Linked DNA regions of Homo sapiens. The protein of the gene in region 2 purifies or fractionates together with the protein of the main gene of each other region. This does not show direct contact. Each region holds a gene or a part of one and is shown on either strand. Other genes may lie near its edges.

Region 1 (4,352 bases), on a different chromosome or scaffold from region 2:
CGCTCCCACGCCCTGAGGCCAGCTCACTTCACCCAGGGCAATCGGCAATAGCTTACTAAATACTGTCTGTGTGCCAAGAACAGTGTCAGCTGTCCTTGTGTCCATCTGAACCCTTGGGCAATATTTCATTTTAAGACACAGTCGCCAACATGAGGGCCTCTCAGGGTCCTTCATGAACCACTCTGGCCCACCCTCCTCATAGGTCTCCTGCTGGGATGAGGGCTCTGATCAGCAATGATGTGGACAAGTGAAAAACCAAAAAACAAGTGCCTTGAGGTATCAGTATTTAAAAACCCTGATCTGCCCAGCAGTCCGAGCCCTATTCCAGGCTCACCACCGTCTCTGTCTGTAACACACTCTCATGACGTAAAGAACCCTCCAACACACATCACCAAATGTTCCAGAATTCAGAAAATCTTGGTCTTTTATTTCTGTCCCTTGGGTTAAAGACACCTGTCTTTTAGTCATTTTGCTTATGAATGTACTTCTACTGGGGCAACTTAGGAGATGGGGAAAATGAATTAAAATCAGTGAAGCTTGATGCTCTTAAGCAACTCTGGTGATGATGATGATAATGATGAGAAGAAGAATGACTGGGAGACAGAATTAGTGATCCACGTTGGGATGAATTAGCTAAATGGATGTCTATGTCTATCAATCAGCTCGTCACCTCCCATTTGCTCAAAGCTTTGTCTTATGGGGCATCTCCCATCAAGGTGCTAAGTGCTGGGAACCAGAGGTATGAGCAGAGACAGGGCCCCCAAGAGGGCTGGCCCCCTTAACCAAGCTGGCCGGGAGTCCTAGACAATGGGCATCATGGGGCGTCATTGGACCCTGGCAGAAAGCACTACTACTTTGAACTCACTATCACCAAACCACACACAATAGTTTCCTAATTCCTCACCATGCTCCTCCCATCCCCTCCTTTTCTACCAACAATGGACACATCCCCTGCAGCCTGGCAGTCAGGGGGCTGTCTTCTGAGTCCATCAAATGCTGAAAGAAAAATATACAACTACTCAGTTCTTTTTAAAAGAACAAATAGATCTAAATTTAATCCAACTTACCTTTGTTTCCCAGGAGAAAGGGGCAGAGTGCTCATCTTGCCAAGTTAGATCCTGAAATAAAAAATCGAGAATAAGTCTGAAATTCAAACCCAGACATACCCCATGCAAATATCCACCCAGGACCGTGGGGGAACCAAAACTTAGGAATAATCCCAACTCCTGGCTCTAAACAAGCCTGATGCTTTGACACTCTCAATATAATGCGCTGACCGTCTTGATCAGATTGCTCCCTCATCTTTCCCGCTGAGGCTGCCAGACACTCCCCTCCCCAGCCAAACAGACAACAGGGAATGCCGGTGAGGCCCCCCAATGGACTCAGACAGATGAGATGAGTAGGAGTGGATGAGGGCTTGATGGTCTCAGCAGAATCAGGCACAGACTCAGCCCTGAACAATGATTAGCTGTGTGGCCATGGGAAGATGACTCAGCCTTTTTGAGCCTCAGTTTTCTCATTTGTAAAAGCAAAATGATACTTCCCTTGCAGGGCTGTTGTAAGGATTAAATGAGGTAATCTGGGAAAAGAACGCCAAGCCATAATCTGCCAGTCAATGCCAATACAGGAGCTCCCCTCCTCCCCAACAGGCCTACCAGAGAGCTCGAGGGCATGGATCAGCAGAATCAATGAAGAAAAACGCCAATGTAATCCATGTGACTAATTATAACAAGAACTCTGAAATCACTCCCCACCCCCACCAAACAGAACAGGACAGAAAGAGCCCTATAGAACAATCACTACGAATTTGACCTTGGATCCAGTATGTTTTGTTCACTGGCCTGCACAAATGACTTGGGGAAGCCACCTTTCCTTATATCCCACCCTCTACCCGCAGTTATTCCTGTGCTAGCAAATGTCTCATCTGTGTCCAGCTTCGATTGGGTAACTTTTGTTTGTTTGTTGGTTTGTTTTAAGAGATGGGGTCCCAGTATGTTGGCCAGGCTGGACGCAAACTCCTGGGCTCAAGGGATGCTCCTGCCTTGGGTGTCCAGAGCAGCTGGGACTACAGGTGTGCACCATGTCTGACTGCTTCTACTGGGAGCATATTTTCAGAACAAAAAATCAGGACACATTGGGTGATACAGGCTAAAATGGGATAAAATATTTTAAACGGAGATCATATCCATATCTCCCCAAAACTCCAGGTGATTTATGTCCTTCCGTAAGTATCCCTGGATAACTGTCTTCTTCCCACCCATAGGTACACCGACTCTGCGCCCCTAAGTCAAGGGTCTGGCTTCCCTCTCCTCTACAGGGCAAACCAGTTCTGCCCACAGACCCTCTTCTTTCAGCTTTTGACAGAGCCTCCGCCACCCTAGCTTAGCCTCAGACACTGGGGGCAAATGCCAGGGCCCACGCAGGGGGAGTGCCTCACCAACACATAAGTGTACACATTCAGCCTTCCAGACCCCGAGTGTGCGTTCTCTGTGCAGACGCCTCCTAACATGAACAGCCAGTGGGAGGTCAGTCTTTGAACTCAAATAACGAAGGCATGCCAGGGTCTGGGCAGCTGAAGGCCTATTCCCAAGAAGCGGGGACAGGGAAGGAAGTGTGTGATGACTCCCCAGCACAGCCCAAGCACGGCCAACCCTAGATGACAGGGGCAACACAGCAGGGCCTTTGTCCGCTTCTCTATCCCAAGTGCCCGGAAGACTCAGCGACTGCCCGTAGCGGACGCTTACTCACTCTTTGAGAATATGTGAATAAACAAACTCTGCACAAGCCCGGATCCTTTCACAGGTTGATTTTCCCCCACAATCACCCGCTCCCAACACTCACACTCCCCCAAGACTTCCCAATGTGGGGGCACAGGCTCTTCACAGCTCTTGGCCCCAGGAGGAAGAGCCAGCCATCAACAGGGTAGAGATCTGGTTCTGTGTCCTGATGGCTGTGCTGTGTGCCTTGGCTCTGTGCAGTAGAGGCTGGTACATTTGTGGCACAAATACTTCACATATGCTGGGGATAAAGAGCAAGGAAAACCCAGAGAGGAGACTGTCAAAAGGCCAGAATCCAGGTCTTTATTTTCCCAGGACAGCATATAAAAGGACTAAATATATTTATATCAGGAAAAAAAACACCACTAACAAAGATACTAGGTATAAATATTAAGAATTACAAAAGTGAGGGAAAAGCCCTACAAACTGGGTTAAGCTGCATTAAAGTGTATCAAACAGTCAGTTCTGAGAACCACATAGTGTGTGCAACTAATGACCATGTGCACAGTAAGATGACCCCCATCCTCAGAGTGTTACAGTCACTGTCCTGTAATGGTATTTGCTTATGATCCTGACTTCTGAACTGATTGGTATGCAGTGCCTCATGGCTGTCAAGCAAAACCTTTAAAAATGAGAGGAACCACTGCCTTTTTGTTTGGAATTTCAGTTAAACTCAAGTCACTTCCCAATGCACAAACTTCATTCCTCCAAAAATGGAAATGGATGCCTGGAGGAATGTGAGTTACCAAGGCTTTGTGATTAGATGTCTCCTAGCAGAGGCAGAGGGCCAGCCTTCAGCTCTAGGGGGCTCCTTGTCCACGTCTCTGTGTGCATGCTAGGGGTACAGTTGAGCTAAATAACCAAAGTCCCTAAAATCCTCAGAACCCTCTGAGTTCCGTTTAGAAGCAATCAAACCAAGAAGGGCTTTGTTTTCACATGGGAAAAATAAAAGAGGCTGATGGAATGTAAGTATCATTTATTCTAGTTAATCATTCATTAACTCTTCGTGAATAAATGATCTCTGCACAAGCCTGGATATTTTCACAGGTTGATTTTCCTCCCCAGCCTCCACACCCCACACTCACACACCCCCTAAGACTTCACCGGCTCTTCACAGCTCTTAGTTCCAGGAGGAAGAACCGGCCATCCACAGGGTAGAGTAGAGATCCAGCTTTGGATCTTTCGAAAAAGGTAAATGGAAATCAACTGGCAAAGGTGCTCCTTCCATCCAGAATCAGACAGGCCACTGGCCACCCAAATGGAAAGAGGAAGTGCATGAACACCTGCGGGGCAGGCAGAGGGCAGGACCACTGACTGGCCAGGGTGGGGCATGATGGAGCTGGACTCCCCTGTTACTCGATATGATTCTAAATATTAATTATATACCTTAAGTCCCTTTGAAATCTGCAAAGATTAAAATAATAAGGCTTTTGGCTTTGGAAGGTGGCTCAATACAACACTCTGAGGAACGAAGACTTAGCCCAGAGCTTGGGGACAGTCAACTCTCCAGTGACTGCAACCCATATTAGCTGAAATTCCAAGGGGGTCACAGGAGGAGAAAGGGTCACACTGTGA
Region 2 (4,352 bases):
TCAGTTGCGAACTGACCGCTGAGATGCAAACCCCAGTGTCTGGTGGGAGGGACAAGGCAGGGACTTTCAGATTTTACTATAAATGCTTGAGTATTGCTTGAATCCTTTATGCTAAGAATGTATTTCCACTCTTCCTTAATGAAAAATAAAATTTAAAATTAGCCAGGCATGGTGGCAGGTACCTGTAATCCCAGCTACTCAGGAGGCTGAGACAGGAGCATCACTTGAACCTGGGAGGTGGAGGTTGCAATGAGCCGAGATCCTGCCATTGCACTCTAGCATGGGTGACAGAGTGAGAGTTTGTGTCAAAAAAAAAAAAAAAAGAAATAGAAAAAGAAAAAAAAAAAAAAACAGGTGAGCATGTTGGCTCACACCTGTAATCCTGGCATGTTGGCAGGGCAAAGTGGGAGGGTCACTTGAGGGCAGGTGTTCAAGATCATCCTGGGCAATATAGCAAGATCCCATCTCTACAAAACAAAAAATAGGCTGGGCATAGTGGCTCATGCCTATAACCCCAACACTTTGGGAGGCCGAGGCAGGCAGATCACTTGAGGTCAGGAGTTCAAGACCAGCCTGTCCAATGTGGTGAAATCCCATCTCTACTAAAAATACAAAAATCCGCTGGGCGTGGTGGTGCACGCCTGTAATCCCAGCTACTCGGGAGGCTGAGGCAGGAAAATTGCATGAACCTGGGAGAAGGAAGCTGCAGTGAGCTGAGGAAGGGCCACTACACTCCAGCCTGGCCAACAGAGTGAGACTCCATCTCAAAAAATAAATAAATAGGCTGGGCGTGGTGGCTCACACCTGTAATCCCAGCACTTTGGGAGGCCGAGGCAGGCGGATCACAAGGTCAGGAGATCGAGATCATCCTGGCTAACACAGTGAAACCCCATCTCTACTAAAAAATACAAAAAATTAGCCGGGCGTCATGGCAGGCGCCTGTAGTCTCAGCTACTCCAGAGGCTGAGGCAGGAGAATGGCATGAACCTGGGAGGTGGAGCTTGCAGTGAGCCAAGATCACGCCACTGCACTCCAGCCTGGGCGACAGAGCGAGACTCTGTCTCAATAAATAAATGAATAAATAAAAGAACAGTTAAGAAAAAAAAAGGAGCGAATGTTATAAACAAACACGGAGTTTCCTGTACTGCTGGTAGAACGGCCTTTCAGTGCTTTGCTTCCTGGATCCGGGTACCAGCTCTGCCTCTCACCAGCTGACCTTTCGGGGTGCAGGGGCGTGGTCACTGATCCTTGGGAAGCCTCAGATACCTCACCAGCAAGATGGGCTGAGCACAGATTAAGAGAACATATTTTAAGAATTTAGCATAATAGGCCGGGCATAGTGGCTCACGCCTGTAATCCCAGCACTTTGAGAGTCCGAGGCAGACGGATCACGAGGTCAGGAGATGGAGACCATCCTGGCTAACATGGTGAAACCTCGTCTCTACTAAAAATACAAAAAATTAGCCAGGCATGGTGGCGGGCGCCTGTAGTCCCAGCTACTCGGGAGGCTGAGGCAGGAGAATGGCGTGAGCCCAGGAGGCAGAGCTTGCAGTGAGCCAAGATCACGCCACTGCACTCCAGCCTGGGTGACAGAGCGAGACTCTGTCTCAAAAAAAAAAAAAAATTAGCTGGGCATGGTGGTGTGCACCTGTAATCCCAGCTACTTGTGAGGCTGAGGCAGGAGAATTGCTTGAACCCAAGAGGCAGAGGTTGCAGTGAGCCAAGACTGCGCCAGTGTACTCCAGCCTGGGCAACAGAGTGAGACTCTTGTCTCAAAAAAAAAAAGAATTTAGCATAATGCTGAGCACTTAAGAAGTACTTAAGCAGTAACTGCTAGACAATATAGACGATATTGTTATTGAGATCCTTCCTATATAAACTTCATCTACAAATCAGTAGGAAAAAGATGAATCACCCAATGCAAAGATAGCCAGAAGACAAACTCATTTTAAAATAAATTCATCCAGGCTGGGCACTGTGGCCCATGCCTGTAATCCCGGCACTTTGGGAGGCCAACGCGGGCAGATAACCTGAGGTCAGGAGTTCGAGACCAGCCTGGCCAACATAGTGAAACTTCGTCTCTACTACAAACACAAAAAAATTAGTCAGGTGTGGTGGCGTGTGTCTGTAATCCCAGTTACTCGGGAGGCTGAGGCAGGAGAATCACTTGAATCTGGGAGGTGGAAGTTGCAGTGAGCTGAGATCACGCCAGTGCACACCAGCCTGGGCAACAGAGTGAGACTCTGTCTCAATAGATAAATAAATATATATATAATAAAATAAATTCATCCTTATTAGGCAAGAAAGGCAAAAAGCAAACTAACAACAACGAGGCAATTTTCACAAGACCTCCTCAAGGCAGGAGAGGGCAGGACCCCGAGGTAGGGAGAAGTAAGTGTCATGCCTTAGGCAAGCCGGGTTTACACCCAGAGCCGTCTCTTCCAACTTCCTCTCCTATCACTGCACCTCCTGCTCCCATGTCAATGACTTCTCTTCTCTTTGGATCTCAATGTCCCCATCTCTACAATGGGGAAATCCCAGCCTTGCAGGTGTTGTTTGGACAGTGACCAAGAAGACAGGAAAAAAGTACCTGCACAGAACCAGGCCCACAGTCGGTTCTCAAACACCGGAGCCTTCTGCTGTATTACAAAGTTTGATGGGCGACCTTACGGAAAGCATTGAAGTTCTTTTACCTTCCTTCTTTCGGTCTCTGGAGAGGTTAAGTGCCAGCTCCTGGCCTGTTTCCCCATCACTAAGACAGGAATGACACCACCTACTTCACTGGTGAGCTTCAGTGCTAACGGACTGGCTGGAAAGTGCTGGTAAACAGTCAGTGCTCAGTAAGTGACAGCCTTACTGTGAGCCCACTCTCTCGTCCTATGAGTCCTGACCATCTGTCTCTGGGAAGCCAGAGGGGCACCTCTATGGTGTCCCTGACTCTGGGATCCCAGCAGCAGGGACAACCAAGCCATCTACCTGATTTCAGCATACATGCCACCACAGGAGCCTGGGATCCCCTGCATTGGAAGGCATGCCGCCCTCGGACATGGACTCAGGGAGACCTGGCTGCAAACTCAAGCTTGCCCATGCATGCTGGGGAGGGCATGACCTTCAGAGCCTGTATTCTGCCATCCAGGAAACAGGGAAGAGGTGCCCCCAGACAGAGGTGACGCAGGACCTGCTGTGTGGGATGCCCACTCCTACCTGCAGGATGTCATGTGTGGGCTCCTGGGATCCGTCTGCAGAGACTTTAGGTGCCGTCTTTACAATGTTGCTCAGATCAACCCCTGTTGGGGGTGGGGGAAGCAAGCACACAGGGGTCAGAAAGAAAGTGACAGCTGTCATCCCCGTGGGCCTGCTGGAATCACACCTCAGGACCCTTCTGCTGGGACCACCCCACTCCAGAAGCCTCCCACCTCCCTATTCCCGCCCATGCCACATCATCACGGGGGTGTAGAGGGTATTGGGTGTTTCTGCCACTGGTCCGTGGGCCAAAGGGAGCAGAGTGGTAGTGAGGCCGTTGTCACACAAGGCTGTCATCACAGGCCACGTCTGTGCAGTGAGGTGCCACATGCTGCCTGGTGGGCTTGGTGGGGGAGGGAGGGACCCCACAGCCTTCTCCCTTGGGGCTCCCATCCCTCCTGGCTCTGGCTGCATTCTTGCCCCTGCTGGCACCCCCACAGGGAGCCCCTACAGTGCTGGACGCTTTTGCTTGTCCCACTGGCCCCTGTCTAGTGTTCTATACCCCACTCTGTGCCTAGGAGGCTGACCTCTGACCTCTCAGGCTGTACCCTGGGTTTGTTCAATGGGGAAGTGAACTTGAGATGGGGGCAGGAGGAGGGGAGTGTGGGGTGTTCATTCCCAGCCCCCTGCCTCTGCCCCAGGGCCCAGCACCCATCATGTGGCCCCTGCCCAGGACTCCTGCTCCCTGCAGTCAGGGTCTCTGCCGGAGCTAGTTGTGCTAGGGGTGGTCTCCTAACCCCACCCACACCATTGCAAACAGCCCCTCATAACCACACTCATCTGCACCTGGTCTGAACATGCCACCTGTTTCCACAGGCTGCTTCTGCCTCTGTAAGCTCGAGGTAGGGTAGAGTAGGGCAGGGAGGCAGGGGCCCTGTTTCCCAGGCCAGGGTCAGGGAAAGTCTCTTCAAGGAAGTGATCAAATGAGACTCATGAGAAGGATCCAGCCCACAAATATCTGGGCGAGGTGGAAGCAGGTGAGAGGTGGGAGCAGGATAACCAGCCTGCCTCGGGCAGAAGCTGGAGGGGACAGGGCCCAATGGCACCTGGTTTCTATGCCAGGCATGTGGCACCCCCAGTGGGGCGGGGCAGCAGGGCTCTCCCACTGC
Region 3 (4,352 bases), on a different chromosome or scaffold from region 2:
ACGTAAGCTGTTTATAATCATATTCCACAAAATATACGTAACTACTGACAGTACTTTCCATACTTATGCCAATCCTCAACTCATTTAGAAAAGGATATTTGATAATATTCTTAATTTATTATATTTAAGTATATACTCCAAATTATACACAATAAATTTTCTTCACTGGAGCTGTTAATACAATCAGATGTTACTTTTGACAGGACTTTAGCAGAAAAAAAAATTTTAATAAAATTAAAGTCAGCAGAAAAATAAAACAAGGAAACAAACAAAAACTAACAAATCAAGACTCTATAGGTTGGAAGTTAACATACTTCATTAAACCTTTCACAGTTCTTGAAGATCAAACGGACATCGGCCACAAAGTCATCCGGGATTTGGTAGTGTTGGGAATGTTTTTTCTGAAGCTTCTTTTTCACGGTGGATAAATCCATTGGTTTCTTTATAATTTTATAGTAGTTTGGTATCTAAAATAAGCACATAATGGCAAATAAGAATTCTCCAAAAATGCCAAACTGTTTAATTTGAAAATGCATAGCATATTAATTTTAGGGAAAAAAATTATTATAGAGCCAGCTGCTTGCAAATTTTGAGTATAGACGTATGTACTTTACATCTTCATGAAAACCAAATCTTATGTGGCATATGTGCCAATCTTCATGGTTAGTCCAAGTCCCCAAAGTCCTACTTTTAATAATAAGATTTGGAAAGAAAGCAATTAGCAAGGGTAACCAACCAGTAGCCTTGAGGCAACATTTGACTTACCAGAATTTTATGACTCCTTAGGAGTTTTTCTTTTTTTTTTAAAGAAAAAAATTTACAAAATATATTAATGTTACAATTAGAATATGATGTCTTTTGGAAAACATAACAGGGAATATCATTTACATCACGAAGTCTTGACTTAGTAACAGAGGAAGTAAGACTAAGAACATAAGAAAAATTTACTAACTTTATTAACCATTTAGTGTTCACGCTAGGGAATTCTGACCCCAACTCTGGCGAAAAATTTCTACCCTTGGGATAAAAGTAAAGTTAGAGAAGCTATTTTATTGACTGATTGACTAATTGATTTTTGAGATGGAGTCTTGCTCTGTCGCCCAGGCTGGAGTGCAGTGGTGCAGTGGCGCCAACTGTGGCTCATTGCCACCTCCATCCCCTGGCAATTATCCTGCCTCAGCCTCCCTAGCAGTTGGGATTACAGGCATGCACTACCACGCCCGGCTAATTTTTATATTTTCAGTAGAGAGGGGGTTTCACCATGTTGGCCAGGCTGGTCTTGAACTCCTGAACTCAAGTGATCTGCCTGCCAGGCCTCCCAAAATGATGGGATTACAGGCATGAGCCACCATGCCCGGCCAAGAAGCTACTTTAATAGTCCATAAAAAGAAAACATTTGAAAGTCATTTTCTACTTTAAAATCCCTGCACTTAAAGATGAGACAAATTTTCCAGAAACAGATGATTACTGCTTGTACAAAACATCTTCCTTCTGTCTATACCTTTTGTGATTTAAAATTCATTTCTCAGGCTACCCAGTAAACAAGTCAACTACCATTTAATATTCTCTAACAGGCCTGGTATGTAATAATGTACTATTCAACAACTGATGGCTAGCAATAAAATGTGTGTAGAATATTCTTACCCCACTTATTAGGCACCAAACACCTCTAATCTTCCTTTTATTGCAGCATTTTAGAGCCTTTATTCCTTACAAAACTCAATGACTATAGACTATGCTAAATATTTTACATAGGTTATTTTATATAATCCTCAGAACAACCCAATGAGGTAAAAAATCGTGTCAGAAAACTTGAGTCTTAGAGAGGTTGAAGAGCTTATTCCAGAAGGCTGAGGTGTAATACAACTTAGTCTAAGGCCATACTCTTTTTTTTTTTTTTCTTTTTTTTTTTGAGACGGAGTCTCGCTCTGTCGCCCAGGCTGGAGTGCAGTGGCGCGATCTCGGCTCACTGCAAGCTCCGCCTCCCGGGTTCATGCCATTCTCCTGCCTCAGCCTCCGGAGTAGCTGGGACTACAGGTGCCCGCCACCGTGCCCGGCTAGTTTTTTGTATTTTTAGTAGACACGGGGTTTCACCGTGGTCTCTATTTCCTGACCTCGTGATCCGCCTGCCTCGGCCTCCCAAAGTGCTGGGATTACAGGCGTGAGCCACCGCGCCCGGCCGCCAGAGCCCATACTCTTAAGTATTATGAGACTTCCCCACCGAGCTACTAAGGTAGGCAACTCACCGAAGCAGGAACAGGCTCCTGGAATTCAATACTTAATTCATGGCAATAGAGGTAAAGCAGAAGACGTTCACATTTCTGGCCCAAACAAGGAAAGGAAAGCACATGAAATATTTTTCTCCTAATAAAACATTCTCGAGAATGAGAACTATATCACAACAAAGTTTGATTACAACAAACTGAACACAAGCCCCCTGTTTACTAGATACTCAACTAAACATAAACACCCAAAGAAAATTCCCTTGCTTCTCATTTTGTTTTCAGACTATCTTTTGTTCTACTTTAAGTAAGAATGGAAGATAACTAAGGTAATTTATGGAAGGGAGTCACAAAAGCAACATCTAACACTTTGTGCAAAAATTTATAAATTACTTGGTAATAAATAAATAAGTAAATAAATTATCACTGTTGCTCCTCATGGTAATTCCTTAGACAGGCAAGACAAATGTTGAAAGTTATCATCCCCTTTCTTCAAATGATTCCAGTCAGGTTCAAAATGAAAATGGCCTTCTCAGTCTAACTCCAAAAATATTTTTTTACCCAATCATGAGTAAACTGAAATGCATTTTACATTCACAGTCTTCTATTTATCTAAACTTCTTTTAATACAAGTTTGTATACCCTAAACACGTATCTTGTCTTCACAGATAGTGGATGAGGGTTTTTACCAGTATATACACCAGAGTAGAGCCAAACTTAACTCTAATGACCACACGACAATGCAAAAGAGTCTGTCTTTGGCAATCAGACTACAGGCCAGATTGGTAAAAATCTGAGTAAAGTAAGGAGAGAGTTTCCATTTTTAATATGATGAGAAGCTATTAGAGGATTTTAAGCAAGGAAATGATAGACTTGTTTACTTTTTTAAAAAGAACACTGTTTAATACAGAAAACAAACTATAAAGGTCAAGAGCAGAAGCGGGGAGAGCAGTTAAGAGATCACTACAATAGTCCAGATGAGAAATTATGATGTAAGGTAAGAAAATCATATTATAGTTATTATTATTTCATTTCTAATAGGTTTCTAACCTGAGCAACAGAAATGAATGGTGGTATCATTCAATTAAGGGGAATACTGGGGGAGGAATACAGTTTTTTATGTCGTTATTTGCTTGGTTTTGTGCTTGGAGGGAGAGGATTAGAAATTAAGATTTTAGTTGGGACATGTTAAGTTTGAGGAATCTGGATAGAAGGGTCTGTAGTTCAGGGTTAGAGGAAAAAAAGACTTCAGAAATCATCAATATACCATCAGATGACAGGATTAAAAATTAAATGTTATCAGGTTTTGTGTATGCTACACAGGAAAAAAAAAGGTGTATATATAGGCAGACAACTACTGAATCCCAGTGACAAATCAACTTATTTGACACTTACCCTTTGGTCCACGGGGCTTAACCCCTGCGCAGTTTTCCCCTTCTTACTATGTTGCAAATTATCACAATCATATTCAACTTCTGGCTTTCCAATATCTCTACAAAATGTGCATATCCAGTCCCCACTAGACAGGGAAATAGGCAATTAGTCCACGTAATTATAAGAAAGCCTGCTCTAGAGAAGCTACTTCCCTGGACTGGGGCCTGGTTTATTTTCTTAATAATTTTTTGAAAAAAGGGAGGTTTTATAGTTGTGAAATCTCGTCAGGTGAAGTCATGTGATTAAAAACTCCTCTAAATTTTCCTAGTCACGCATCAATTGATTACTTTCTGGAATGCATTATAAAAATGGCACCTCCGCATTAAAAGGGGGTCTCTTAGTAGTGATGAGCAGTACTTGCAGCATAAGGCCTAAGACCAATTCTCTCAGATCCCAGTATCACCATTATGTGGACTCAGTTATTTATGAAGAAGAAGAGCACAGGTTGCAGAGTTTCTCAGGTATCTTGTACTGTTTTGGCATGTATTAAAATGCCACAAGTAAATCAGTTCTTTTTTCGTGGTCAAAACCTAGAACACACAAACACATACCTGCAGGCACAAGCACATGTATATATACCTCCTTTTTTTTGGAGACAGAATCTCCCCCTTGCCCAGGCTGGAGGGCAGTGGCATAATCTTGGTTCACTGCAACCTCCGCCTCTCGGGTTCAAGCGATTCTTGTACCTCAGCCTCC
Region 4 (3,558 bases), on a different chromosome or scaffold from region 2:
ACCAAAGTTTGCCTAATGAATCTTGATCACTTTAAAATGCAAAATACCAGCAACATAAATTTCATTATATATACACATATGCATCTGTGTATGCATATTACATATATATACACACACACACACAAATATGTAGACATAAATCCCTTGAAATGTTTTCAGGAAATCCTTCCTTGAATTATAAATGAAAAACTTCACATTAATAATTTCATATAAAGCTTTTAGTAACAGTACATATGCACTGTCAAAATTTTACTAGACTATGATGTCAAAACAGACATTTCAAAAGCACAAACTGGCAGTTTTTCTTAACAAAAGTTTTAAAATATTAAGAATGGATTAAATTTTAATATTCAGAATAATCTGTTCAAACCTGAGTGTATTAAGACTAAGTGTACTTGACAATTGAATGAATTAAGCCTAAAAACATTTCTCTAAGAAACCAGTGGTCCATTTAACCATTTGATGAAACATTATTTTAATGACTTATAAAGGATAGTACAGTATACTGAAATTCCACTTAAATACTGAAATATTCTACTAAATGACATTGTTTTGTCTAAATTTCCTCCAGAAAAATCTGTTAGCATTTCTTAAAAGTCCCTCAGATTTGAGGGAAATTCTAAATTAGGACAGTTTTCTCTCCAAATAAATATAAATGATCTTGAGTATTTTTGTTTAAAGAATGACGTGATTTTTAAGCATGGTATATAGAAGTATGGGATGAATCTTCAATCTTCCCTAAGGTTTCAATAAATAATAATAAATATAGTAATAATAGCCAATCAGAGGGGTTAAAAAGGTATTTGGGGGGGCTTTTTTTCCTAGCTCTATATTCACATATACTCATATAAACCTTACCATGGGGTTACTTTTTGGTTACCATTTCCCCTTCCCCATTTTTGATTAACCTGCCCTAATTCTCACCTTTAATATCTAACAGATACCTTTATAGAATTAACAAAACACATACAGTACTCAACACTAAATGGTCAATGGAAGAAGACAAGCAGTGTTCATTTTGTTTTAAAGTGGAAGAGACTAGAAATAAAAACAGTTGAAGGCAAAGTTTGACATTCTATAAGTTTATAAAAGAGGATATATGGATGAAATTTGGTTAATTTCAGAAGGCACCTCAAGGCTAAAGGCTTTTTGTACTTCTTTCATCAATCAAAAAGTTAACACGCTTTTATTGCTATTCAAGTAGCAAAGGAAAACTACTCTCACAAACTTCAGTTCAACAGAGAAGAATCACCATTAAGATTGAGATATGGAATTGACTAAAACCGAAGTCTCCATACACGTTATCAATGGAGCAACTTTCCTGTGTGCTTTCAAATTAATGAAATCGTGAAAGAAAAGTCACCATTCGCCATTGTGATGTTAATGTGTCATTGAAGATTTCAGTTACTACACTAGGCACTGAAGTACCATTCTGGAGGGCTGTCCACTGTATAGAACATTTATGAATAGAAGGTAAGGACACTCTGATGATTCCCACGAACTAGGAGGATTGGTGGTAGGTCCTTAGATAGAGCTTCTAACCATGCCATGTAGAGAGCACTAGACACAGCACCTTTTCGTGCAACTGGGAGACTCCTGGTATCAAAAAGAGAAAAAGAAAAAAAAAAAACCCTGAGCAATGCATTTACAGAATAAAATGTAGCAAAAATTATAAAGTAGATTACAATAACAGTTACTGTAAATTACTATAATTACAGAATATTTCTGAGTGCAGGAGAATTCTGCAAATAGAATAACAACCACAGTTGTGTTGCTTAGCGATGGAGACGCATTTCTCAGAACTTACTGTCAGGCAATTTTGCCCTCGTGAAAACATCACAGGAGTACTTACACAAACCTAGATGGTATAGCCTACTACACATCTAGGCTATATGACACAGCCTGTTGCTCCTAAGCTACAAACCTGTATAGTACGTTACTGTAGTGAATACTATAGGCAACTGTAACACGATGGTAAGCATTTGCATATCTAAATACAGAAAAGATACAGTAAAAATATATATATATTTTTTTAAGAGAGATGGGGTCTTAATACATTGCCCAGGCTGGACTCAAAACTCCAAAACTCCAGATCTCAAGCAATCCTCCCACCTCAGTCTCCCAAGTAGCTGAGACTACAGGTGCACACCACCATGCCCAGCTTAACATATGGTATTATAATCTTATGGTACCACCATCATATATGCATATATAAAAGACTATAATCTTTCAACAAAAGATTTTTCAAAATTTGTTCATAAGAACAGTAAGTATTTCTATAAACCACAGTACCTCTGATATCTAACACTAAATCCTAGGTTTCCCCTTCTTTAATAAGAATAGAATTCTTTTAGGTGAAAGGTATGTTTACTATCAAAATTTAGAAAACAGAAGCTATATATGGATAAATGCAATTTTTATCTTCTCTTAGTTTTAATTTCTATTTATGGATGGTGGCAGCAGTGACCAATTGCTGTATAGTTTTTCTCTAAATTTCTATGTTTTGGTGTCTTTTCCATTTACAGGTATTTGATTATCATCAGCAAAACTTGAAACTTTTTGATTTATTGAATGTTGTTAAACTAACAATCTTTTGGTAGTTTTTTTCATTACTTGGCTTTTTTTGTGGGGGAGAGGCCTGAGCTTTCCTATCTAAGGACACATGTTCCAGAACTCAGAAAATGTGGGTTCAAAGAATAGCTAACCTAGTTCAGTAGAGGAAGAGCCAAAGTAGGCATTTAGTATCATATTTAACTCAAGGACAATGTGTCTGTATGTAAAATTTGCGTGTTGGAAACATAAGAATGGGGATCCAGATAGGAATCACTATTCAAGTTTAATCTGCCAAATAACATTTTTTGAATTATTTTCAAGAGGAAGCTGTCCGGGGCCCAAATTTTAACGTAGGACCCTCCTATCCACACGTGCTTAACGGCTATGCTGTAGTGTTTACAAAGATAAGGAATTTTAAAAAGGTGAGAAGAAGGGTAAACAAAAGGTTCCAATATAACCTACTATGATAAAAAGATTACTTGGGATTCATATAAGCATAAGGTTAAAGTTTTTGTCTTTCTCCATATGCTTAAAGCATAGTATATTTTTACAAGTTTGTTTTTTCCTCCTTATAACCACTAAGTCAATATGGGTGTTATATAGATATGTACTTGGAATAGAAATTAATTCAAAGCATATTATCATAAATTAGCAAGAAAATCTTTATAAAGATATTACTTACATGACAATAATATTAGCTGTGCTTGAATGTTCCTTTAATAACTCATTTAACCTGATCTGCCGGTATGTCTGAAATGAAACAGGACAGTCATTCCTAGACCATGTGGAAATAAGAATTTAGCATGGTTCATAAAACTATAAGGAGACAAAAAGAAACTGAAATGAATTTTCGTGTAATAAAAATATCTGTTCTCTATTTTTATTTTTTTTAAAAATGCTTTCCACTAACCTCAAATAAATCTATTTTAAAGTAGAGTTCATTTATACAACTGACCCTCCTATATCAAATTAAAGTTCTTGGTTTTCATGTCTTTTATTATATAA
Region 5 (4,352 bases), on a different chromosome or scaffold from region 2:
CCTGAAAGTCCCACACCCTTATTAGGGAGGGATATGTTAGCCAAAGCTGGAGCTATTATCTACATGAATATGGGGAACAAGTTACCCATTTGGTGTCACCTACTTGAGGAAGGAATCTACCTTGAAGTCTGGGCATTGGAAGGACAATTTGGAAGGGCAAAAAATGCCTGCCCAGTCCAAATCAGGTTAAAAGATCCCACCACATTTCCTTATCAAAGGCAATATCCCTTAAGGCCTGAAGCTCATAAAGGATTACAGGATATTGTTAAACATGTAAAAGCTCAAGGCTTAGTAAAGAAATGCAGCAGTCCCTGCAACACCCCAATTCTAGGAGTACAAAAACCGAACGGTCAGTGGAGTCTAGTGCAAGATCTTAGACTCATCAGTGAGGCAGTAATTCCTCTATATCCAGTTGTACCCAACCCCTATACCCTGCTCTCTCAAATACCAGAGGAAGCAGAATGGTTCCCTGTTCTGGACCTCAAGGATGCCTTCTTCTGTATTCCCCTGCACTATGACTCCCATGACTCCCAGTTTCTCTTTGCCTTTGAGGATCCCACAGACCACACATCCCAACTTATATGGACCGTCTTGCCCCAAGGGTTTAGGGATAGCCCTCATCTGTTTGGTCAGGCACTGGCCCAAGATCTAGGCCACTTCTCAAGTCCAGGCACTCTGGTCCTTCAGTATGTGGATGATTTACTTTTGGCTACCAGTTCGGAAGCCTCATGCCAGCAGGCTACTCTAGATCTCTTGAATTTTCTAGCTAATCAAGGGTACAAGGCATCTAGGTCAAAGGCCCAGCTTTGCCTACAGCAGGTCAAATATCTAGGCCTAATCTTAGCCAGAGGGACCAGGACCCTTGGCAAGGAACGAATACAGCCTATACTGGCTTATCCTCACCCTAAGACTTTAAAACAGTTGTGGGGGTTCCTTCAAATCACCGCTTTTGCCAACTATGGATCCCCAGATAGAGCAAGATAGCCAGGCCCCTCTATACTCTAATCAAGGAGACCCAGAGGGCAAATACTCATCTAGTAGAATGGGAACCAGAGGCAGAAACAGCCTTCAAAACCTTAAAGCAGGCCCTAGTACAAGCTCCAGCTTTAAGCCTTCCCACAGGACAAAACTTCTCTTTATACATCACAGAGAGAGCAGGGATAGCTCTTGGAGTCCTTACTCAGACTCGTGTCTGACAACTGGTGGCACACCTAGGTAAGGAAATTGATGTAGTAGCAAAAGGCTGGCCTCACTGTTTAAGGGTAGTTGCAGCAGTACCCATCCTAGTGTCAGAGGCTATCAAAATAATACAAGGAAAGGATCTCACTGTCTGGACTACTCATGATGTAAATGGCATAGTAAGTGCCAAAGGGAGTTTATGGCTATCAGACAACCACCTACTTAGATACCAGGCACTACTCCTTGAGGGACCGGTGCTTCAAATACATACATGCGTGGCCCTCAACCCTGCCACTTTTCTCCCAGAGGATGGGGAACCAATCGAGCATGACTGCCAACAAATTATAGTCCAGACTTATGCTGCCTGAGATGACCTCTTATAAGTCCCCTTAGCTAATCCTGACCTTAATCTATATACCAACAGAAGTTCATTTGTGGAGAATGGGATACGAAGGGCAGGTTATGCCATAGTTAGTGACGTAACCGTACTTGAAAGTAAGCCTCCTCCCCCAAGGACCAGCACCCAGTCAGGAGAACTAGTGGCACTTACCTGAGCCTTAGAACTGGGAAAGGGAAAAAGAATAAATGTGTATACAGGTAGCAAGTATGCTTATCTAATCCTACATGCCTGTGCTGCAATATGGAAAGAAAGGGAGTTTCTAACCTCTGGGGGAACCCCCATTAAATACCACAAGGAAACCATGGAGTTATTGCATGCAGTGCAAAAACCCAAGGAGGTGGCAGTCTTACACTGCCAAAGCCATCAAAACGGGAAGGAGAGGGGAGAACAGCAGCATAAGTGGCTGGCAGAGGAAGGGAAAGACCAGCAGAAAGGAAAGAGAGAAAGAAACAGAAAATCAGAGAGAGACACAGAGAGAGGAAGTGAGAGACAAAGGAGTCAGAGAGAAAGAAAGAGACAAAGTCAAAGAGACAGAGACAAAGAGAGAGTCAGAGAGAGAGACATAGAAAGGCAAAGAGAGAGAGGAAGAGACAGACAAAGAGGGACTCAGAGAGACAAAGAAGTCATCAAAGAGAAAGAGAGATAGAAGTAGTAAAGAAAAAACAGTGTACCCTATTGTGGGCGGCAAGCCACCCAGGTGCCGAGGCAAGAGACTGAGGGCACGAGCTGTTCCAGTATAAAATATATAAAATAAGAAGTTATACTAAATATAGATCATAGAGATGATTATATATGAATATCATTAATCATTAGTTTGTAGCAATTACTCTTTATTCCAATATTATAATAATCTTCACTCTACAATCATAACCTAGGAAAAACCAGGCCATACAGGGATAGGAGCTGAGGGGACATAGTGAGAAGTGACCAGAAGACAAGAGTTGAGGCTTCTGTTATGCTCGGACAGGGCCACCAGAGGGCTCCTTGGTCTAGTGGTAACACCAGCGTCCCGTGATCTAGCGGTAGCATCAGTGTCAAGGAAAAACACCCGCTACTTAGCAGACCAGGAAAGGGAGTCTCCCTTTCCCCGTGGGAGTTTACAGAAGACTCTACTCCTCTACCTCTTGTCTTTTCTTTTATCTCTGTCTTGTGTCTTTATTTCTACACTCTCTCGTCTCCGCACACGGGGAAAAAACCCACCGACCCTGTGGGGCTGGACCCTACACCCTATTCCTTTAAAAGCCACAGTAAAGTTAAAACCTATAACTGATAATTGAAGGCCTTCTCTGTAACTCTGTAACACTCCAATACCACCTTGTTGTCAGTGTAAACAAGGGCGTAGCCCAAAAGCACTGAGGCCACTGACAACCCATAGCCTTCCTATCAAAAATCCTTAACCCAGCAGGTTTCCTAACAGGGGATCTAAATCTTAACTAACTACCATACAAAGGTCCGACCAGATCTAGGAGGAACTCCCTTCAGGACAGGACCATAGATGGTTCCTCCTGGGTGATTAAGGAAAAAAGACACAAGGGGTATTCAGTAAATGATAAGGGAACTGTAGAAGCAGAGTTAGGAAAACTGCCTAATAATTGGTTTGCTCAAATGTGCGAGCTGTTTGCACTCAGCCAAACCTTAAAGTACTTACAGAATCAGGAAGGAGCCATCTATATCAATTCTAAGTTAATATGGACTGAACGAGGTCTTATTAATAGCAAAGAATAATTGAAATCCCAAACTTACAAGGTTTTCAACAAAAGTAAAGTTTGCTAAAAGTTAACAGTGTAAACATATATTATTCTAACTTCTAATCTTGTGGAAATCAGACCCTATCAGTACCCCTCAAAGCTCAAGTCCGTCAGTGCAGAGCCATACAACTAATACCCCTACCTATAGGGTTAGAAATGGCCACTGCTACAGGAACTGGAATAGCCAGTTTACCTACTTCATTATCCTACTACCACACTCTCAAAGGATTTCTCAAGAGAGTTTGCAAGAAATAACAAAATCTATCCAGTAAGGATAGTAACTACAATTCCAAATAGACTCTTTGGCAGCAATGACTCTCCAAAACCACCGAGGCCTAGACCTCCTCACTGCTGAGAAAGGAGGACTCTGCACCTTCTTAGGGGAAGAGTGTTGTTTTTACACTAACCAGTCAGGGATAGTATGAGATGCCACCCAACATTTATAGGAAAAGGCTTCTGAAATCAGACGCCTTTCAAACTCTTACACCAACCTCTGGAGTTGGACAACATGGCTTCTCCCCTTTCTAGGTCCTGTGGCAGCCATCTTGCTATTACTTGCCTTCGGGCCCTGTATTTTTAACCTCCTTTTCAAATTTGTTTCCTCTAGAATTGAGACCATCAAGCTACAGATGGTCTTACAAATGGAACTCCAAATGAGCTCAACTAAACTTCTACCAGGACCCCTGGACCAACCTGCTGGCCCTTTCACTGGCCTAAAGAGTTCCCCTCTGGAGGACACTACAATTGCAGGGCCCCTTCTTCACCCCTATCCAGCAGGAAGTAGCTACAGCAGTCATTGGCCAAATTCCCAACAGCAGTTGGGGTGTCCTGTTTAGAGGGGGGGGATTGAGAGGTGAAGCTGGCTGTGCTTCTGGGTCGGGTGGGGACTTGGAGAACTACTCTGTCTAAAGGATTGTAAATGCACCAATCAGGGCTCTGTGTCTAGCTAAAGGTTTGTAAACACACCAATCAGTGCTCTGTGTCTAGCTAATCGGGTAGGGGACTTGGAGAACTTTTCAGTCTAG
Region 6 (3,480 bases), on a different chromosome or scaffold from region 2:
GCTCTTTATATAGTTGTTTTATATAGTTGTTTTGAGACAGTCTCACTCTTCACCCAGGCTGGAGTGCAGTGGTGTGATCTCAGCTTACTGCAACCTCCATCTCCCAGGTTCAAGCAATTCTCCTGCCTCAGCCTCCTGAGCAGCTGAGATTACAGGCGCATGCCATCACCCTTGGCTAATTTTCATATTTTTAGTAGAGACGGGGTTTCACCATGTTGGCCACGCTGATGTGGAACTCCTCACCTCAAGTGACCCTCCCTCCTTGGCCTCCCAAAGTGCTGGAGTACAGTGGTGCAATCTCAGCTCACTGCAAGCTATGTCTCCCAGGTTCAAGCGATTCTCCTGTCTCAGCCTCCTGAGTAGGTGGGATTACAGGCAAGCACCACCACATCCAGCTAATTTTCATATTTTTTAGTAGAGATGGGGTTTCGCCATGTTGGTCAGGCTGGTCTCAAACTCCTGGCCTCAAGTGATCGGCCCGCCTCAGCCTCCCAAAGTGCTGGGATTACAGGCGTGAGCCACTGTGCCCAGGTTGGATTTTGGCTTTAAAAATAATATTCCCGGCCGTGCGCGGTGGCTTCCGCCTGTAATCCCAGCACTTTGGGAGGCTGAGGTGGGCGGATCACGAGGTCAGGAGATGGAGACCATCCTGGCTAACACGGTGAAACCCCGTCTCTACTAAGAATACCAAAAATTAGCCAGGCGTGGTGGCAGGCGCCTGTAGTCCCAGCTACTTGGGAGGCTGAGGCGGGAGAATGGCGTGAACCTGGGAGGCGGAGCTTGCATTGAGCTTGCAGTGAGCGGAGATCATGCCACTGCACTCCAACCTGGGCGACAGAGAGAGACTCTGTCTCAAAAAAAAAAAAAAAAAAAAAAATTCCCTGAAATCGACTGTAGTTAACAGGGAACATTTAAAATGTATCTTGAAATAATTCAAAACTTAGAGAAAAGCTGCAAGAACTCCTGTTTTCTCTTTACCCAATTCACTATTTTTTGACATTTGCCACAATCTGTGAAGAGACTTTTTAATATGATTAAAATATCCTGCATCTTATCAAACCTCACTTTCCCCTTCTGCTAAAGATTTCACAATCCAATGTTTATGACGATGGCTATAAAATGGTGATTTACCAGGCCGGGCATGGTGGCTCACGCCTGTAATCTCAGCACTTCAGGAGGCCGAGGCGGGTGGATCACCTGAGGTCAGGAGTTCGAGACCAGCCTGACCAACATGGTGAAACCCTGTCTCTACTAAAAATAAAAAAAATTAGCCAGGTGTGGTGGTGCATACCTGGAATCCCAGCTACTCACTTGAACCTGGGAGGTGGAGGTTGCAGTGAGCCAAGATCGCGATACTGCACTCCAGCCTGGACAACAGAATGAGACTCAGTCTCAAAAAAAAATAAAATAAAAAATAAATAAAATAAAATGGTGATTTACCAAAGTCCATTGCAATTTCTCACATGGAGTTCTACTTCAAGGAAGAGCTCTTTCCTCTCCCAACGTGTTTTAGGACCTTAATACATAATGACAAATAGTTTTATAAATAGCTGTTAATGTAGTGTCATCCATAATCTGTGAATATCAGCACATGATATCATGTAAGTTGCTCTTTTTTTGGCTAATTAACCGACAAAAAGATGCACTGTTGCTGTTTTAATTTGCGTATCTTTAATTACAATTAAGGCTGAACTTTAAAAAATATATTTACTGAATTTCACTCTCTCTAGCTTTCACATATACAAATTGTCGGCCAGGTGCAGTGGCTCATGCTTGTAATCCCAGCACTTTGGGAGGCCAAGGCGGGCGGATACAAGGTCAGGAGATCAAGACCATGCTGGCTAACAGGGTGAAACCCCATCTCTACTAAAAATACAAAAAATTAGCTAGGCGTGGTGGTGCACACCTGTAGTCCCAGCTACTTGGGTGGCTGAGGCAGGAGAATCGCTTGAACTGGGGAGGTGGAGGTTGCAGTGAGCCGAGATGGCACCACTGCACTCCAGCCTGGGTGACAGAGTAAAACTCCGTCTCAAAAAAAAAAAAAAATTGTCTCTTCATGTATTTTGTCCATTTACATACTAAAATCTAATGTGTTCCTTATTTATTTATGTGTAGTCTTCACTGAATAATATTAACTCTGTGATATCGAATACACATTTTCTTAAGGTAGTATTTTGCTTTGTTTCACTTTCAAGTTTCTAACTTCATGCAATAAAATATGCTATAATTTTCTTCTGTGATTTATCCTTGGCTTGAATATTTGATAAATATTTAATTCCATTTTATTTTTCTAAAATAAAATTCCATTTTACTCTAAATTTAAGAATATTTTTAAAATATTATTTAAGCCATCAGATTTATGTTCATGTATTTTGAGAGTGGTCTAATTTTGTTTTTCTAGACTGACAGTCAGCTATTCAACCTTTCAAACACTTACTGGTTAAATTTTCCCTTTTTCAAAATACATGCTCATATAGAACAGGTTCCATCCATTGCTATCTACTCTGTTCTTATCCAGGTATCTACTTTTAAAAATTATTGTGGTAAGATATACATAACATAAAACTTACAGTTTTAGTAATTTTTCAGCATACCATTTAGAGGCATTAAGTACAATCACATTGTTTTGCAAACCATCACCACAATCTGTCTCCAGAACTTTTTCATCATCCCACGGGGAAACTGCCCCATAAAACACTAACACCCAGTTCTAGCCCCTCCTCCCAGGACCTACTCTTGACTTTTGTTTCCTTATATGACATTATACGTCAGGTAAGGCTAGTTCCTCCTTTCAGTTTTCTTGTTAGATCATTTTATATTGCTGATAATTTATTTCACCAAAATGTATTCTTTAGTCTCGTTTTGTAAAATTCCAAGTAAAATCCTGTTCAGGTTGTATTTAGGGAGAAGTGACTTCATTACAACATCTGGTTTTCCCATCCAATAGCACATTACGTCTCATATTCAGATTATCTTTTTATACCTCTGAGCAGTTTTGTGCCTCTTCCATATATATCACTCACATTTCTTTTTTAAAAAATTATTTATTTAGTTGTTTAGAGATGGGGTCTTACTATGTTGCCTAGACTGGTCTTGAACTCCTGGGTTCAGGCTGTCCTCGTACCTTCAGCCTCCTGAGTAGCTGGGACTATAAGAACACACCATGTGCCTGATGACACTCACAGTGCTTATTAGGATTATTCTGAGATAACTTTTATTTTTGCTGCAATTATGGTGGCAGTTTTTTTCCCTCCCGTTACATTTTCTAATTGGCTATTGCTGATGAACAAGTGCTGGATTTTTCTATTTTTACCTTGGACTTGGTCACTCTTACGAACTCTAGTAGTGTTTTAGAAATACTGAATATCGGCCGGGTGCGGTGGCTCATGCCTGTAATCCCAGCACTTTGGGAGGCCGAGGCGGGCAGATCACCTGAGGTCAGGAGTTCGAGACCAGCCTGACCAACATGGAGAAACCCCG
Region 7 (4,352 bases), on a different chromosome or scaffold from region 2:
TGAGCCTCAAGGAACTGCAACAAAAAGATGTAGCAAATCACATCAAAAGCAGAGTACAATTTATTCTAAAAGACACCTCAAAATCGCTCCTGAAAAAATGTGTTATGCTTTTCATTTTGGCTAATTGGGTTCTTTCAGCAGTTAATTTTATTGAAATTATTAATTTTTAATTCCATGAAAAAACACCACAGGAATCTCACATTGTTGTATTTAATTAGAATTCACTATATATGCTATTCAGTCTCGCACTTAATCCAGAAACATTCTGGAAATGAAGTATGAAACGCCCATACCATACTCACTATTATTCCAAAATCCTAGAACCATTTTTATAATCTTCTCACTTATTTTAGCAGGTAGTTTAGATTGGTTTATTGCCATAAGTGAGTTCTCTTAGCTTTTCTACCTCTCTTCCAGTGTAAATAACAATCAGGTATTTTTCTTATAGTGAAAGATGTATAGGACCATGAACCAGATTATTTGTTCACTGTAACTAGCTCAACAAAGGACTGTTACTAAAAATTTTTCTAAGATACAGAAATGGCTAGTTATGCAGGCCGCTTTTCCTACTAAACAAAACAAAATCTCTTTAGCGTAAAGGCAAAACATAGCAGTTAATTTCTGAACTATAGCCAAAATTTCCTATAATCTAGGTGTCACATACAACAGTACAATGTGGATATCAGTATAACTGTAAATGTGAAAACTTGGTGTGGGGGGAACAATTTCTGAGGAAGCACTAACTGACCTGAAGTTTCAGAGGGGCTAGCAAGATACATGGAGAGGTGCTGCAAGATTCATTCATCCCTAAATGCTACTGAAAACCCTACTTTGTGACTGTAACCATCTAAAAAGAAATCTGTCTCCATACAGGGAGTGTAGAGTTGCGTTAAAGATTATAGCCAAAGAACCTCCCTTTCAGGACCTTTTTGATAATCTACTTCCAAACTACTTAATTTTTAATGTTTTGATTTACACTTTTTTTGTGTGTGAGACAAAGTTTCTCTCTTGTTGCCCAGGCTGGAGTGAAATGGCACAATCTCAAAACAAATAAAAAGCCCTAGGCTCTTCATTAGTTCCATGGGTTTTCCAGTATCTAGCAGAGTTAAAACAAAGTTGCTCTTTCTTTTTTCTTTTTTTCTTTTCTTTTTTTTTTTTTTGAGACGGAGTTTCACTCTTGTTGCCCATGCTGGAGTACAGTGGCGCCATCTTGGCTCACTACAACCTCTGCCTCCCAGGTTCAAGCAATTCTCCTGCCTCAGCCTCCCGAATAGCTGGGATTACACGCATCCGCCACCATGCCCAGCTAATTTTTTGTATTTTTAGTAGAAACGGGGTTTCACCATCTTGGCCAGGCTGGTCTCAATCTCCTGACCTCAGGTGATCCACCTGCCTTGGCCTCCCAAAGGGCTGGGATTACAGGCATGAGCCACTGCGCCCAGCCCAAAATTGCACTTTCTAAAGAAAAACAATGTTCCACTTAATTGTATTTCTTTGTATTCTTCCCCAGAGTGTCTGATTCCTCTCTACCTAGGCAAGAAGAATACACATGTGAACAGGTAAAAATTCAACTAAAAAGAGACAACTTGGCCAGGCGCGGTGGCTTATGCCTGTAATCCCAGCACTTTGGGAAGCCGAGGCAGGTGGATCACGAGGTCAGGAGTTTGAGACCAGCCTGGCCAATATGGTGAAACCCTGTCTCTACTAAAAATACAAAAATTAGCCAGGTGTGGTGGCAAGCGCAGGTAGTCCAGCTACTCGGAAGGCTGAGGCAGAATTGCTTGCATCCGGGAGGCAGTGGTTGCAGTGAGCCGAGATGGTGCCACTGCACTCCAGCCTGGGCGACAGAGTGAGAATCTGTCTCAAAAAAAAAAAAAAAAAAAAAACAACAAAAAAAGAGACAACTCAAGCTTAGCTTGCTCCCTCAGACAGAGCAGTATGTGTGAGACACTCCTCTGAGTGCCATGTCATTGGCAGCTGGGCACCATAATGGGACTGTGATGCCGTCAGCATTTTTCATTGGTTCTACTGCCCAACTTGGAGTTGGCTTACTTCCCCTTTCCAAAGTCTTAATTTCACCAAGTGAGATTTATAACCATAGAGAAAGAGGCGTCAAATGCCTTCCCCACCCCCAACCCCACCACCTGTTGAAATGACCTTAGAATTTCAGCCTTTTATAGTAAAACTGAGTCCTGTTATATTGAAAATCCTTCAGGGAAATATTCTATTACTTCTGGTCTGTTATTAATTTGTATCCCACAACAGATCCTAAGCTACTTTGAAACAGCTGACATTTTCTCTCTCAGTCATTATCTCCAGTCCCCAGGACAGAGCCCAAAACAAAGCGTGTTAGATAACTTGGTAAACATTTGTATAAAGAGAATTAACAGTAAGATGTGTAAACTCACTTACACCTTAGTGTGAATGAACTTCTTCAGGCCCTTTCCTGAGAAATTTTGGGTAGATTATCCATTGCGTGGGAAGAGTTAACAGAGCCCTGAAGAGAAGTGAGCCTAAGAAAGGCTCCTCCTCAGTTCTGCCTAGAAACATTGTCCTGCTGTGGATCAATCTAAAAGTTCTTCAAAGGAAACCCCAGACTTTTGCTTGAACGGCATATGGAAGTATCTTGTTCTTCTATGGAAGTCTCTCTACACTTCAGAAATATAGTTTGAGACATTAATAATTTGCAATTGTTTATTCACCACAAAGTAGGACCAAGAAACAGGGACCCTTCTTTCTAATCCCAGAATGCATGGTAGAGCACTCAACCAATCACTAACACTTAAATTAATCAACAACATAAAAAACATCGTATTTGCAGAATGTTATCTAGTCAATGCAATATGATGAATGATTAAAACCCAGCTCCTGGTGCTTGCTTCAGCAGCACTTTGAACAACAATCTACTAAAATTGGAATGACACAGAGAAGATTAGCGTGACCCCTGAACAAGGATGACATGCAAATTCATGAAGCATTCCATATTTTAAATAAATAAATAATTAAAATAAAAATCCCAGCTCTTAGAGTCAGATAAGCCTGGGGTTGAATTCTGGCTCCACTTCTTACTTAAACTCTGTAAGCCTGAGTTCCCATATCTGAAAAGAAAGATATTAACAAAGTCTATCAGAGAATCGTGGTAAGGTTTAAATAGGAACGCATCTAAAGTGCTTAGCCACAGGAAAGTACTCAAGAAATGCGCACCATCATTTGGAGACCTAGATTCCATTCCACCACCACCTCCCTGTATATCCTTAGGCTAGTCACTTGCTATAAAGAAGTAATGGAAACAAGGAGACAGAACTAGCTGTACTCTAACACCAGGATTATCCATCATGAGTACGGTAATAGAAAATAGACCAAAACTTTGAAAAATAAAAGGCTTAAACAAATTCCAGATATTTTTTGGCATGTATTTGAAGCTTGCATATGCTTGATCACAGACGACTCAGCATTCGAATATCAAAGTGAAAAAGTGTGACCAATCAAACTTCAAAGCAGATATTCTCAAATAACAGTGACTGTGGTAGATGAGGGACTTCATGAAACACCTTTGTGTGTGTGTGTGTGCACTGAAGGAAAGAGAAAGGGGTAGGGGACAGGGGAAGAGAGAGAGATCTCAACAATAACTGGCTTAAAGACTATCTTGTAACCATTTTTTCAGCACTAAGTTTAAATCTGTTTTCTTCCTCAGCCCTTAACATCTATCAGTCATATATGTATTACCTAGCACCCAAGTAATGGCCATTGTTCAATCTAGATGCTGTGTTATACAGGGCCATTACAAGTGCATAGGGCCCTTCTGTAGGAATCAGACAAAGGGCACCCAGAGCCCAGGCTGGTTTTCAGTCCCCACTTACCCCTGAGTTGGGCACCCTTGTGCAATGGCACAACCATAAATAGATATACAGCAGTCAGGCAGAGAAACACAAAGATCTTCACACATTTAACTAGCACACCTGTGCAACTGTTTATATGATATATACCCACACATACACAAACATGACTGAAAAAGTTGTCAAAGACTGAACTGAGTAAAAAGAAAAAAGATATTCATCAAAATGGAAAACACAAAGTTCCACAGAGTGCAAAAGAAAAACCAGGTTCCTTCCCTCACTCTCAGCTACCCAGTATTGGGATATTGTGTAGCCAATTAGAACTTTGGGGACAAGTAGTAGGTAGAGACTTTGACACTGCAAAATTCTCATCCCTGGCAAAGCTATGGTCTCTCTGGCAATTGCTCTCTCTCTCTCTCAAAAAAAAAAAAAAAAAAAAAAAAAAAAAAAAAAAAAACCCACCCACAGACACCAAAGGATCTACTTAACTGAATTTGCAAAAACAATGATAAACAA

The links.
Region 1: the proteins of ARMC6 (region 2) and C1orf198 purify together in Homo sapiens (affinity purification with mass spectrometry; 2 studies listed by BioGRID and IntAct, with this or other methods). This does not show direct contact.
Region 3: the proteins of ARMC6 (region 2) and TRIM33 purify together in Homo sapiens (co-immunoprecipitation; one large-scale study listed by IntAct). This does not show direct contact.
Region 4: the proteins of ARMC6 (region 2) and SLC12A2 purify together in Homo sapiens (co-immunoprecipitation; one large-scale study listed by IntAct). This does not show direct contact.
Region 5: the proteins of ARMC6 (region 2) and GALNT11 purify together in Homo sapiens (affinity purification with mass spectrometry; 2 studies listed by BioGRID and IntAct, with this or other methods). This does not show direct contact.
Region 6: the proteins of ARMC6 (region 2) and SLC20A2 purify together in Homo sapiens (affinity purification with mass spectrometry; 2 studies listed by BioGRID and IntAct, with this or other methods). This does not show direct contact.
Region 7: the proteins of ARMC6 (region 2) and SLC16A10 purify together in Homo sapiens (affinity purification with mass spectrometry; 2 studies listed by BioGRID and IntAct, with this or other methods). This does not show direct contact.

What each region holds. Positions count from the first base shown.
Region 1 is NC_000001.11:230,854,601-230,858,952, forward strand, and holds part of C1orf198 (uncharacterized protein C1orf198), read right to left. Parts: intron 1,408-4,352; exon of another isoform or gene 1,278-1,407; intron 1,119-1,277; coding exon 1,068-1,118; intron 1-1,067.
Region 2 is NC_000019.10:19,042,927-19,047,278, reverse strand, and holds part of ARMC6 (armadillo repeat-containing protein 6), read right to left. Parts: intron 3,288-4,352; coding exon 3,205-3,287; intron 1-3,204.
Region 3 is NC_000001.11:114,399,143-114,403,494, forward strand, and holds part of TRIM33 (E3 ubiquitin-protein ligase TRIM33), read right to left. Parts: intron 3,742-4,352; coding exon 3,618-3,741; intron 2,322-3,617; coding exon 2,247-2,321; intron 468-2,246; coding exon 315-467; intron 1-314. UniProt on the Homo sapiens protein: Acts as an E3 ubiquitin-protein ligase. Promotes SMAD4 ubiquitination, nuclear exclusion and degradation via the ubiquitin proteasome pathway. According to PubMed:16751102, does not promote a decrease in the level of endogenous SMAD4.
Region 4 is NC_000005.10:128,184,534-128,188,091, reverse strand, and holds part of SLC12A2 (solute carrier family 12 member 2), read right to left. Parts: intron 3,370-3,558; exon of another isoform or gene 3,304-3,369; coding exon 3,236-3,303; intron 1,597-3,235; coding exon 1,461-1,596; 3' UTR 1-1,460. UniProt on the Homo sapiens protein: Cation-chloride cotransporter which mediates the electroneutral transport of chloride, potassium and/or sodium ions across the membrane. Plays a vital role in the regulation of ionic balance and cell volume.
Region 5 is NC_000007.14:152,028,499-152,032,850, reverse strand, and holds part of GALNT11 (polypeptide N-acetylgalactosaminyltransferase 11), read right to left. Parts: intron 1-4,352. UniProt on the Homo sapiens protein: Polypeptide N-acetylgalactosaminyltransferase that catalyzes the initiation of protein O-linked glycosylation and is involved in left/right asymmetry by mediating O-glycosylation of NOTCH1.
Region 6 is NC_000008.11:42,418,155-42,421,634, forward strand, and holds part of SLC20A2 (sodium-dependent phosphate transporter 2), read right to left. Parts: intron 1-3,480. UniProt on the Homo sapiens protein: Sodium-phosphate symporter which preferentially transports the monovalent form of phosphate with a stoichiometry of two sodium ions per phosphate ion.
Region 7 is NC_000006.12:111,089,850-111,094,201, reverse strand, and holds part of SLC16A10 (monocarboxylate transporter 10), read right to left. Parts: intron 1-4,352. UniProt on the Homo sapiens protein: Sodium- and proton-independent thyroid hormones and aromatic acids transporter.